3 linked regions of the Homo sapiens genome follow. The protein of the gene in region 2 purifies or fractionates together with the protein of the main gene of each other region. This does not show direct contact. Each region holds a gene or a part of one and is shown on either strand. Other genes may lie near its edges.

What was found.
Region 1: the proteins of OR13G1 (region 2) and DENND10 purify together in Homo sapiens (affinity purification with mass spectrometry; one large-scale study listed by BioGRID and IntAct). This does not show direct contact.
Region 3: the proteins of OR13G1 (region 2) and BEND6 purify together in Homo sapiens (affinity purification with mass spectrometry; one large-scale study listed by BioGRID and IntAct). This does not show direct contact.

What each region holds. Positions count from the first base shown.
Region 1 is NC_000010.11:119,134,903-119,138,499, reverse strand, and holds the end of DENND10 (DENN domain-containing protein 10), read right to left. Parts: intron 2,030-3,597; coding exon 1,853-2,029; 3' UTR 1,444-1,852; coding exon of another isoform or gene 1,432-1,443; 3' UTR 516-1,431; downstream 1-515. UniProt on the Homo sapiens protein: Guanine nucleotide exchange factor (GEF) regulating homeostasis of late endocytic pathway, including endosomal positioning, maturation and secretion, possibly through activating Rab proteins such as RAB27A and RAB27B.
Region 2 is NC_000001.11:247,676,924-247,681,099, forward strand, and holds the start of OR13G1 (olfactory receptor 13G1), read right to left. Parts: upstream 2,817-4,176; 5' UTR 2,717-2,816; intron 1-2,716. UniProt on the Homo sapiens protein: Odorant receptor.
Region 3 is NC_000006.12:57,020,897-57,024,491, reverse strand, and holds part of BEND6 (BEN domain-containing protein 6), read right to left. Parts: intron 1-3,595. UniProt on the Homo sapiens protein: Acts as a corepressor of recombining binding protein suppressor hairless (RBPJ) and inhibits Notch signaling in neural stem cells, thereby opposing their self-renewal and promoting neurogenesis.

The sequences.
Region 1 (3,597 bases), on a different chromosome or scaffold from region 2:
CAGCTCCAGGAAGGCGAGTGGAGGAGGGCTAGGGCGGGAGGAAAGGGTGTGTGGGGGACGGCTTGAACTTTTTTTTTTTTTTTTTTTTGAAACCAAGTCTCGCTCTTTTGTCCAGGCTGGAGTGCAATGGTGCAGTCTCGGCTCACTGCAACCTCCGCCTCCCTGGTTCGAGCAATTCTCCTGCCTCAGCCTCCCAAATAGCAAGTAGCTGGGATTACGGGCATGTGCCACCACACCCAGCTAATTTTTGTACTTTTAGTAGAGATGGGGTTTTACCACGTTGGCCAGGCTAGTCTCAAACTCCTGATCTCAGGTGATCCGCCCACCTCGGCCTCCCAAAGTGCTGGCATTACAGGCATGAGCCACCGCGCCCTTGGCCGTCTTGAACTTTCAGACAGGTCTTTTAATAATTCCCTAGCGCCCTCACAGTTGAAAAAAGGTATTTTTTCCCCATTTTCTTTGGAATGAGCAGTATTAGAGAAAGAGGGGACAATTCGTCACCCACCTAAAAGTAGTTGAATATCAAAATATATCAATTTTATTTCTGCATCATAAATTTATAATTTTAACAACTTTGATCATTAGCTAATATAGTAATACAAAAAAATGAGAAAAAAGATGTTAATATTCCTCATTTCCATAAAGTGCAGATTTAATTTTCAATTATTTGCCTTAGTAAACATTGTCTTATTTCAGGTACTCCCTGCCCTCACTCAAAAAAAAGGGAGGGTGTTTAATTTTTATTGAACAAATATGTAATACCAAGAAAAAGATGAAAGACCCAATAATGTTTTTTGCAAACATGTTTCCAGGTAAGATTTCCAAGGACATCAGTACTGAGTGAAAAATAATCCTTTACAGTCAATATGAATGAATACACTAACAAGTACATCATTTAGATCTCCATGCTTATTTGGCAATTCCAGTTATGAAAAAGGTACATAAATAGTACAAACAATTGGCTTGACATGTGGCCAAACTACTTTCATCGAAGTTGCTGGAAGCCTTTCTCTGGTTTTGGCCCCTGTAGGAAGTTAATCTCATATTCCCTTAGCAATAATATAAGGTCACTGTTTCAGTCCTACACACTTTTATATTCAATGGGCTTCTTAGTTTATCACATAAGGACTGGCACTTTTTTCAAAAGAATATTGCTAACAGGGTTAAATGAGTGCTAATGGCTGAACGTTTGCCAAATGCTTACTTCTGCGATAGTATAAATATGGATTATTAAAGTTGTCTACTCAAGTATAAAATATATGCAAAACTCTCATAGGCAAAATGTTCAAAGGCCGGGAAAAACCTTTTTTTTTTTTTTTTTTTTTTAACTTTTACGAGAAAGTGCAACTGCAGGGTCTCTTGAATGATCTTCTAGACAGTTCCGCAGAAAATTAGCAGTTTGGCTCAGAAAGTAGAGTTCCTCAGGAGGAATTAAAGTTCTTCCTAGAAGAATACAAAGCAACGTTTCAGGCAGCTTTCTGAAAATAAACCATTAGCTTATGCCTACACAGCGAGACAAACTGGAACGTGTAATAATGAAGGCTTTCACATTTGTTGTGATGTGCTTTTTTTCTCTTACCCCAGGACCTCTAGCTGTTCTGTAATGTTACATAAAGTAGTTATAGCACTTCGTCCAGCACTGACAGCAGGCAGGAAGCTAATCAGCGAGGAGAAAATCGGAAGTGTGTTCATGTGTTTCATTGTTTTTCAGGTCAAATCTCAATACTTGCAAATAAATCATTAAAAAGATATAACAGTTTCTCTGTTATTTTCAGGACTTCATGTAGTGAGTGGGTAATCAGAGTGAAAGAGGGCTTTCTATCAGTCATCAGTGATACGTTCTGTCACACAGTCAGATTTTCAGCATTTGTTCGGCTGCTGCTAGATGATAAAGGAAGTTTTCTGTTGCTGGTGGAAATCGTTTTTGCTTTAGCGCCTCCAAATTAAGGACTCTCTTTTCTCCATCAGCCGAAACTTCTGAAAACGGTGCTAGGTTGGTAAAGATTTCTCTTGTTTTTAGAGCAATATCCTTTAATAGAACAGGAAAATATATGCAACATGTTAGTATCCGAAATTTGAATATTTAGTCTCTAGAATTCTTCCTATTTTTTCCAGACTGTTTATAAACTATGAAAAATGAGCTTGGCGTGGTGGCTCATGCCTGTAATCCCAGCACTTTGGGAGACCGTGGCAGGAGAATGTCTTGAGTCAGGAGTTAGAGAATGCAGTGAGCCATGATTGCACCACTGCACTCCAGCCTGGGCAACCCTGTCTCAAAAACGAACAACAAAAAAGATAACTCCTTTTTTTGTTGTTGTTTTCGAGACAGGGTCTCGCTCTGTTACCCAGGTTGCAGTGCAGTGGTTCAATCATGGCTCACTGCAGCCTCGACCTCCCAGGCTCAAGTGATCTACCCACCTCAGCCTCCTGAGTAGCTGGGACTACAGGCATGCGCCACCACACCCAGCTAATTTTTAAATACTTTTTGTAGAGATGGGGTTTCACCATGTTGCCCAGGCTGGTCTCAAACTCCTGGGCTCAAGCAATCTGCCCACCTTGGCTTCCCAAACTGCTGGGATTATAGATCTGAGCCACTGCATCTGGCCTGATAATTCTTTTTAAAGAAAAAATTAGGAAAAATGAAACAAAATTAACTTAGAAAAATCATAGTGTGTGGTTTTGGTTTTTTTTTTTTTTTTTTTTTTTTTACAATTTTAGTCATTTTCTGAGTGTATAATTCAGTGGCATTAAGTACATTTGCAGCGTTGCACAACCATCACCACTATTTCCAGCACGTTTCACCATCACAAACAGAAACTCTACCCATTACACAATAACCCCATTTCCCCTCGCTTAGCCCCTGGGAACCTCTATTCTGCCGTCTAACTCTGTGAATTTGTCTGCTCTAGATAGCTCATATAAGTGGAATCATACAACATTTACCCTTTAGTGTCTGGCTTATTTCATTAGCATGGTTTCAAGGTTCATCCATGCTATAGCATGTATCAGAATTCTATTCCTTTTCTCCCCCCCAACAAAAGCCACATTCAAAACATTCCATTCCTTTTTAAGCTGAGTAATATTCTACTGTATATAAAGACTACATTTTGCTTGCCCATTCATCTGCTGAAGGACACTGGGTTGCTTCTGCCACGTTTTGGCTACTGTGAGTAACACTGCTATGGATATTTCCATACGAGTACAGTCATGCACCACATAATGACGTTTTGGTCAACCAGGGACCACATTTACAATGGTAGTCCCATAAGATGATAATGCTATATTTTTACAGTATCGTTTCTTTTCTTTTTCTTTTTTTTTTTTTTTTTTTTTTTTGAGACAGTTTTGCTCTTGTTGCCCAGGCTGGAGTGCAATGGCACAATCTCGGCTCGCTGCAACCCCCGCCTCCCGGGTTGAAGCGATTCTCCTGCCTCGGCTTCCCAAGTCGCTGGGATTAACAGGCGCCCACCACCACACCCGGCTAATTTTTGTATTTTTAGTAGAGATGGGTTTCACCATGTTGGCCAGGCTGGTCTTGAACTCCTGACCTCAGGTGATCCGCCCGCCTCGGCCTCCCAAAGTGCTGGGATTACATGC
Region 2 (4,176 bases):
AGGAGTGCGATTGGAAAGGGAAGAGGAAAGAGAAGATAAATTCCAATAAAACTGGCCTGGTGTGTGGTTCACACCTGTAGTCCCAGCACTTTGGCAGGCTGGGGTGGGCAGATGGCTTGAGCCCAGGAGTTTGAAACCAGCCTTGGTAACATAGTGAGACCTCGTTTCTACAAAAAATACAAAAATTAGCCGGCCTGTAATCCCAGCTACTTGGGACGCTGAGGCAGGAGAATCGCTGGAGCCTGGGAGGCGGAGGTTGCAGTGAGCCGAGATTGTGCCACTGCACTGCAGCCTGGGTGACAGAGCCAGACCCTGTCATAATGAAATAAAAATAAAAATAAGAAAAGATAGGACTACTTGAGATTATTATATTCTAAGGTAAGGAATTATTTTGTTGTTAAGTAGTCGATAAGGGAGAAATTTTAGATTTCTGAGAGAGGAAGTAGTATGTGACATACCCCAGTTTTAGAAAGCCAGCCCTGAAGGCATCATAGAGGATGAATTCAGAGGGAGACAGTATTTGTCCATCTTAAATGGAGACTGTGTTTACAGGCACCACCTGGTTTGTAGAACATTATCAATTTAAGTTTAACAATAGGATTTATTTATAATAATGAATTGCCAGAATAAAATGAAAGTGATATAGAATTGCCAGAATAAAATGAAAGTGATATAAAACTACATACAGAAAAAACTTAGACCATTTTGTCTGGCAGGATGCAGTGCACTGCCAAATAAACACTGGCAACCTTTTCCTGGAAGGAGTGAATTGAGGTCACATTCTGTTTACTTACTTTAGAACACCAAACATTTACTAATAATACACAATGATGCTTGATTTATGTGCCATTCACCATGCTATTTTGCTGAATCATGAGGATAAGTTTAAGAATTAATAGGGCCGGGTGCGGTGGCTCACGCCTGTAATCCCAGCACTTTGGGAGGCCAAGACGGGCGCATCACCTGAGGTTGGGAGTTTGAGACCAGCCTGACTAACATGGAGAAACCCCATCTCTAATAAAAATACAAAATTAGCTGGGCATGGTGGCACATGCCTGTAATCCAGCTACTCAAGAGGCTGAGGCAGGAGAATTGCTTGAACCTGGGAGGCGGAGGTTTCAGTGAGCCGAGATCGCGCCATTGCACTCCGACCTGGGCAACAAGAGCGAAACTCTGTCTCAAAAAAAATTAATAATATTTATGTCACTATTTTACATATGAAGTAGTTGGTGAAATTTGGTAGTTATCAAATGTGCTTATTGTCACACAGTCAGACACTGGCGACATGGAAATCTGAATCCAGGGAGTCTAATGACAAAATTCACTCATGTTGCATTTTATAAGCCAATGTTATACCTATGTCAACTCCAACAGCACAGTTTATTCTTATGTATCCATTACATCATTATCATCATCTCCGTCTTCAAGTATTTTCATCTTCATTGTCATAATAAACAATATCGGCACACGTTTAAAGGGCCTATGTTGTCTAAGGCAAGGTACTAAGAACTCCCCACAGCAGCCACTGTGTTTTATGGGGACAGAGTGATACAAATTTCCTCGTACTCTCATATTCCTGAATGACTTCTGTCAGACAGTTTCATTCTAGGCCACTTTCTATTAGGTAGGGCTACGTCAGAGGTGATTCTAGTTCAAGCATCGTTTAAGGAGAATGTTACATTCTCTTCAGCTTAGCTTCACTGTTGAAGTACTAGAAAAGAAGTGAAAGTAGCTACTTCTTAATTTTCTAGGTTTCGAAGTGATCAGAGAGGTAGGAAAGGAAGATCAGTGTGAAGGCAGTATAATAAATTGTAAAAAGAGAAAAGGTGGCGGAGATTAAGGAGAGTCAATACCTGCATACAAATCATGGCCCTACCCTACAAAGGATAATCAACCACTTGGTTAGCCAGGGATTGTCCAAGTTTTGCCACTGAAAGACCCACATCCTAGGAGACCTGTCAGTCTCAGGCAACCTGGGAAAGTTGGTCACCCTAGGACATCTGAAGCCAATGCAATTCCTGTCTGAAAGCATTTTATTCTCTATGTTTGGGAAGACATTATTTTTCACATTTACATTGTTTTCTAAGTTTTGGAAGAAATCTTTTTTTTTTTAAATTCAACTCTGAACATGCCACTCACCATTTTATAGAGTCTGTCACAGATTCTTATATATGTAGGTAGAATATGAACACTAAATGAGTAAATGAAACCCTTGTAAGGTTCTATTTTTGAGAGGCGTTTTAAGCAGCTTGGAGCATCCTGATACAATGAGAAGTTTTGCAAGCTAATTCTTAAACTATTTAGCTAAGTCTTTATGATAATTAAAGAAAGGACATATTCTAAAACAATTTCTCATACATGTCAAGCATTCCCATAACTTGGTAAAGTATGTTAACCTAAATTTAGTTGACTGTCTTTTAAACTCCAACTTTTGCATATTTGATATGAAAGGAAAAATTTTGAAAGGCTGGCAGGCAATATAAATACTTGCATCATCAGTATTTTGATACATTGATAGCATAAAATCCCCTGTTTTGAATTAAAGTACAATCCGCGGATGGATTGTGTGTGTGTGTGTGTGTGTGTGTGTGTGTGTGTGTGTGCGCGCTATGGCTAAAAAGGAATTAAATATGTTACCTGGCTCAAAAATATCCCTACTCAGGCCATGATTTTATGGTAAACTTAAGAATTAGACAGTCTGCCCACAAATACTCACTGTAGTTTTTTGCAGAGTATTGTCATGTTCAAATGGTGACCTGTATTAAATCACTGTAAAAAACTAAAAGTACAGTAGCTCTTGCCAGTTTGCTATCAAATGAGCTCTTTCATGCTTGCTTTAGTATTGGTTTATTTATACTTAAGATCAATGAAAAGCATGGTTCCTGACTCAAGGACAAGGGACCCCAAGGAAGAGCATCTTGAAGTGATTTGCTATTAGTTACATTAAAATGTATCCCAGAGGAACAGTTTTTAAAACCCTGAACTAATTACCAATTATGATGTTCAATCACTTGGTCTTTGTGTGTCAACCTTTTTCTGTGAAGACCAAAAGGTATCCCGAGATAATGTCTTCATGGAGTAGGAAACCTGAATAATGAGACACAGTGGAAATGCTGGTGGGAGATTTAAAGAATAAATGGATGGACATTGTTATAAAAGCAATTACATCTGCTTCGGAGATCTTCTCCCAATATAAACTTAGACAGTGTTAAAAGAAAAATCTTAGACAAGTTAAATTTAACAGAGTTCATTTGAGCAGAGAAAATAAAAAATATTTATGAACCAGATAACATTCAGGACCAAAAGCAGTGCAGAGAGCTTCATCCTACAAGGCGTTGCAGGCAATATTTATAGCTGGAGAAATGGAAATGACATGCGGAAATAACTTGATTGACTAGAGTTCTGTGTTTGCTTTATTTGGATGTTTTGGCAGGTTTCGGCCTACAGTTGGCTGAAGGTTAGGCTGCTATGATTCGCTGAGATTTTGCTACTTGTTATAATGTATGCTCTGAAGTTAGGTTGCAGGTTGTTTACACATTAAGTTAGGTTACAGTTTACCATGTACACAGGCAGATTTAGGACAAACAGTTCAATTTAATAAGAGGAAGAGTGGTAGGAAATGAATTCCAAGATGAAGGTTAAAGCAAAGTTTGTCATTTAGTCCTCTACTCTGTGCAGGCCTGGAGGATCTTACAAATAAAATATGAAATGCAATTTGGTTTTCATTTGTTTAATGTAACACGCAAACCCTTCAGCTAAATTTCTTTCTGAATTGTTTGAAAAACTGTTCTGTACATCCTTTTGCTGTTTATGCATACCCAAACACAAATGCAACTCATCTGTGTGATGTACGCATAATGAAATAACATTGTCTCTATCCCTCTTGCTGAATAGCCTCATAGTTTGAAATGTTCATTAGAATTCAAACACACATTTACATGTTTACCATGTATTTCTTTCTCCTATTTGTTTATCTTAAAGAAAAGTTACATGGGTAAATATCAGATCACTTTAACAGCTTTTTAAAGCTTCCAGACAGTGATCTAAATGCTTATTTCACATTTATTGTAAGCATAGTATTACTAAATATTAGTTAAGTATATCAAACTATCAATATGAGAGCAAGTAAGGGGCAGGAATTATATGTAGTTGTCATCACACGGCCAAATAGAAATT
Region 3 (3,595 bases), on a different chromosome or scaffold from region 2:
CATCCAAAAATACTGTATCCAGCAGAGTTATCTTTCAAATGCGAAGGATATGTAAAATCTTTCCCAGAGAAACAAAAGCTGAGAGAATTCATCACCAACAGTCTCATAAGAAATCTAAAGAGAGCTCTTTAGTCTGAAAGACAAAAATGCTAATGTGCAAGAACAAAACATCTGAAGGTATAAAACCCACTGGTAAAATTAAGTATACAAACAAACCTAAAATTATCTAAAACTGTAATTGTCATTTACAATCCACTCATAACACCACTACAAAGCTCAAAAGACAAATGTATCAAAACAATAACATCTACAGCAACCTATTAAGAGATAGGCAATATAAAAACATGTCAATGAGACAACATAAAGTCAAAATGTGGGGTGAATGCAATTAAACCGTAGACCTAAGAAACCCCTTTATAAAGTTTTTTTAAAACTTCTTTGTAATAAAAATCGTCATCTTTTAAAAACAACTTCTTATGTGTATATTTTTATAAGCTTCATAGTAACCACAATGCAAAAACCTTTAATAGATTCACTAAAAATAAAAAGCAACAAATTACAACATATTACCAGAGAAAATCATTTAACCACAAAGGAAGACAGTACAAAAGGAAGAAAGGAAGAGAGGAGTTAGAAAATATACAAGCTACAAAATAGCAGTAGTAAGTCCTGATCAATAATAACACTGAGCCTAGGCAACATAGTGAGATCCTAGCTTACTAGCTAGGTGTGGTGGCATGTGCCTATAGTCCTAGCTACTCAGAAGGCTGTGGTAGGAAGATCGCTGGAGCCCAAGAAGTTGAGGCTGCAGTGAGTCATGATCACACCACTGCCTGGACAAGAGTAAGACCTTGCCTCAAAGAAAAATAGTAACATTGAATGTAAATGGACTCAGTTTTCCAATTAAAAGGTATAGGATGGCTGAATGCAAAGAAACAAGACCCAACTACCATGTTGCCTATGAGAAAGCCACTTCACCTATAAAGACACACATCGATTGAAAGTGAAGGTGTAGAAATAGATACGTGATGCAACTGGGAACCAAAAAAGAGCAGAAGTAGTTATATCAGGTAAAACAGGTACAAGTCAAAGACTGTAAAAAGAGACACAGGAGGTCACTTATAATAATAAGGAAGTCATTTCAGCAAGAGGCTATAATAGTTTAAAATGTCTATGCACACAACACAAGAGCTCCCAAGTATATAAAGCAAACATTAATAGATCTAAAGGGAGAGACAGATTGCAATATAATAATACTGAGGAACTTCAACACCTCACTCTCAATAATGGACAGATCCTCCAGACAGAAAATTGACAAGGAAACACTGGAGTTAAAGTACACCATAGATCACATAGGCCAAACTGATATTCACAGAATATTTCACCCAACTGTTATAAAATACACATTGTTTTCATTAACACATGGCACGTTCTCCAGAATAGGCTATATCTAGGCCACAAAACAAGTCTCAATAAATTCAAAACAGTAGAAATCATATCAAGTATTTTTTATGACCACCATGGAATGACACTAGAAACTGATAACCTGAGGGTCTCAGAAAATGCACAAACACATGGAAATTAAATAACAAGCTCGTGAATGACCAATGAAGTAATTAAGAAAAAAAGTATAAAATTTCTTGAAACAAATGTAAATGGAGATACAACATTCCCAAATCTATACTATACAGCAGAAGCAGTACTGAGATGGAAGTTTGTAGCAATAAACACCTATATCAAAAAAGTAGAAAGACTTCAAATAAACAACCTAATGGTGTACCTCAAAGAACTAGAAAAGCAGGAACAAACGGAGCCTAAACCTAGTAGAAGGAAAGAGATAATAAAGATCAGAGCCAAAAAACAAAAAACAAACAAACAAAAAAGGAGATTTAAAAAACCAGATCAATGAAAGAAAAAACTGGTGTTTTTAGAAGACAAAGAAAATCAGCAAACCATTAGCCAGACTAAGAAATAACAAAGAGAAGGCCAAATAAATAAAATGAGACATGGAAAAGGATACATAATAACCGAGACCACACAAATACAAAGACTCATTAGAGAGTATTATGAAAAACTCTTTGCCAACAAATTGGAAAACCTAGAAGAAATGGTTAAATTCCTGGACACATACAACCTAGCAAGATTGAACCATGAAGAAATAGAAAACTTCAACAAATCAATAGGGAGTAACAAGATCAAAATTATAATAAAAAGTCTTCCATCAAAGAAAAGCCCAGTACCTGATGGCTTTACCCCTGAATCTACAAACATTTGAAGAGACAGTAATACCAGTTCTGCTCTAATTCTTCAAAAAAAAAAAAAAAAAAGAAAAAGAAAAAAAGAAAAATTGAAGAGGAGGGAATACTTCCAAACTCATTCTACAAAGTAGTATTTCCATGACACCAAAACCAGAGAAGGGCACAACAAAAAAACAAAACTACAGGCCAGCATCACTGATGAGCCAGATACAAAAATCTTCAACAAAATACTAGCAAACCAAATTCAACAACGATGTTTAGCAGCATCCCTGGCCTCTGACCACCGGATGCCAGAAGTACCACCAGTTTTGACAATCAAAAATATCTCCAGGCATTCCTAAATACCCTGCGTTGGAGGAAGGTGGCTAAATCACACCTCCCTCTCCGCCGCCCCCCACCATTTTAGCACCACTGTATTAGATCACCTATAAGTTATAATATATGTTATGTAACATTACGCCAGAGATTATATACCCTGAGGCCGCTTTGGAAATTTCAGGAGAAGGCAGTTTGGTCACTTAGTTGGATGTTATAGAGGTGATAGCCTAATATTCTGTAAATCTTATAAATACATTTTTCTTCAATGCCTGCAAGAAAGAAGTAAAAAATGGAGACAGGCTGGAAAAAAATCAAGCTCTTGCATGTGAGAGCTACAGGCAACTTTAGGGCAGCCACAGGAATAAGAAAGAATATATTAAAAAAAGGGAGGAATTTAGGCCTTACCCTCACAGACCTGAGCCATAGCTGGGAAATTGTTACCCTTTTAAATCTAAGCCACCAGTGACAACCTGAGCTCAGGACTGAGTGGAGGGCACGGTCTACCACAGGGACCATGCTAGAAAAGTAAGTTTTTCAAAGAATATTTTTGGTGGCAGGGCAGGGCCATAGGCTCCTGTGAGTTAAATGACTGAGAACAGAAAAATATAACAGTATTCCACTAGATGGTGCTATATCTGATTAATTTATCAAGCATGTCCAAATTAGGTCTTACCTGACCCTGTCTTTTCCAGCATATTTTCCTCAGTCCTTTTTGCAATAATTTGAATTCAACCATACTTAAAATGAAAGATATTTGCAAATTTAAAAAATTCCATTCTAGCTAATCTCCATTACTGATTCAAAATACATGCATTTCCAGTCTAAACAACTTGGCACTATTAAGTCAGGCTCAGGTTCAAAAGGCACAAAGTTCATAGCAAAATGTCTGTTCCTTGTTTCAATTTTAATTAATGCCATAGCTAGCAGATTTAATAACACTTCTATTGTTAAGTACAAGCAAAACTGATATAAAAATCTCTTAACTTTCACTTCTTTAACATTCTGCTGGCTGATATAGT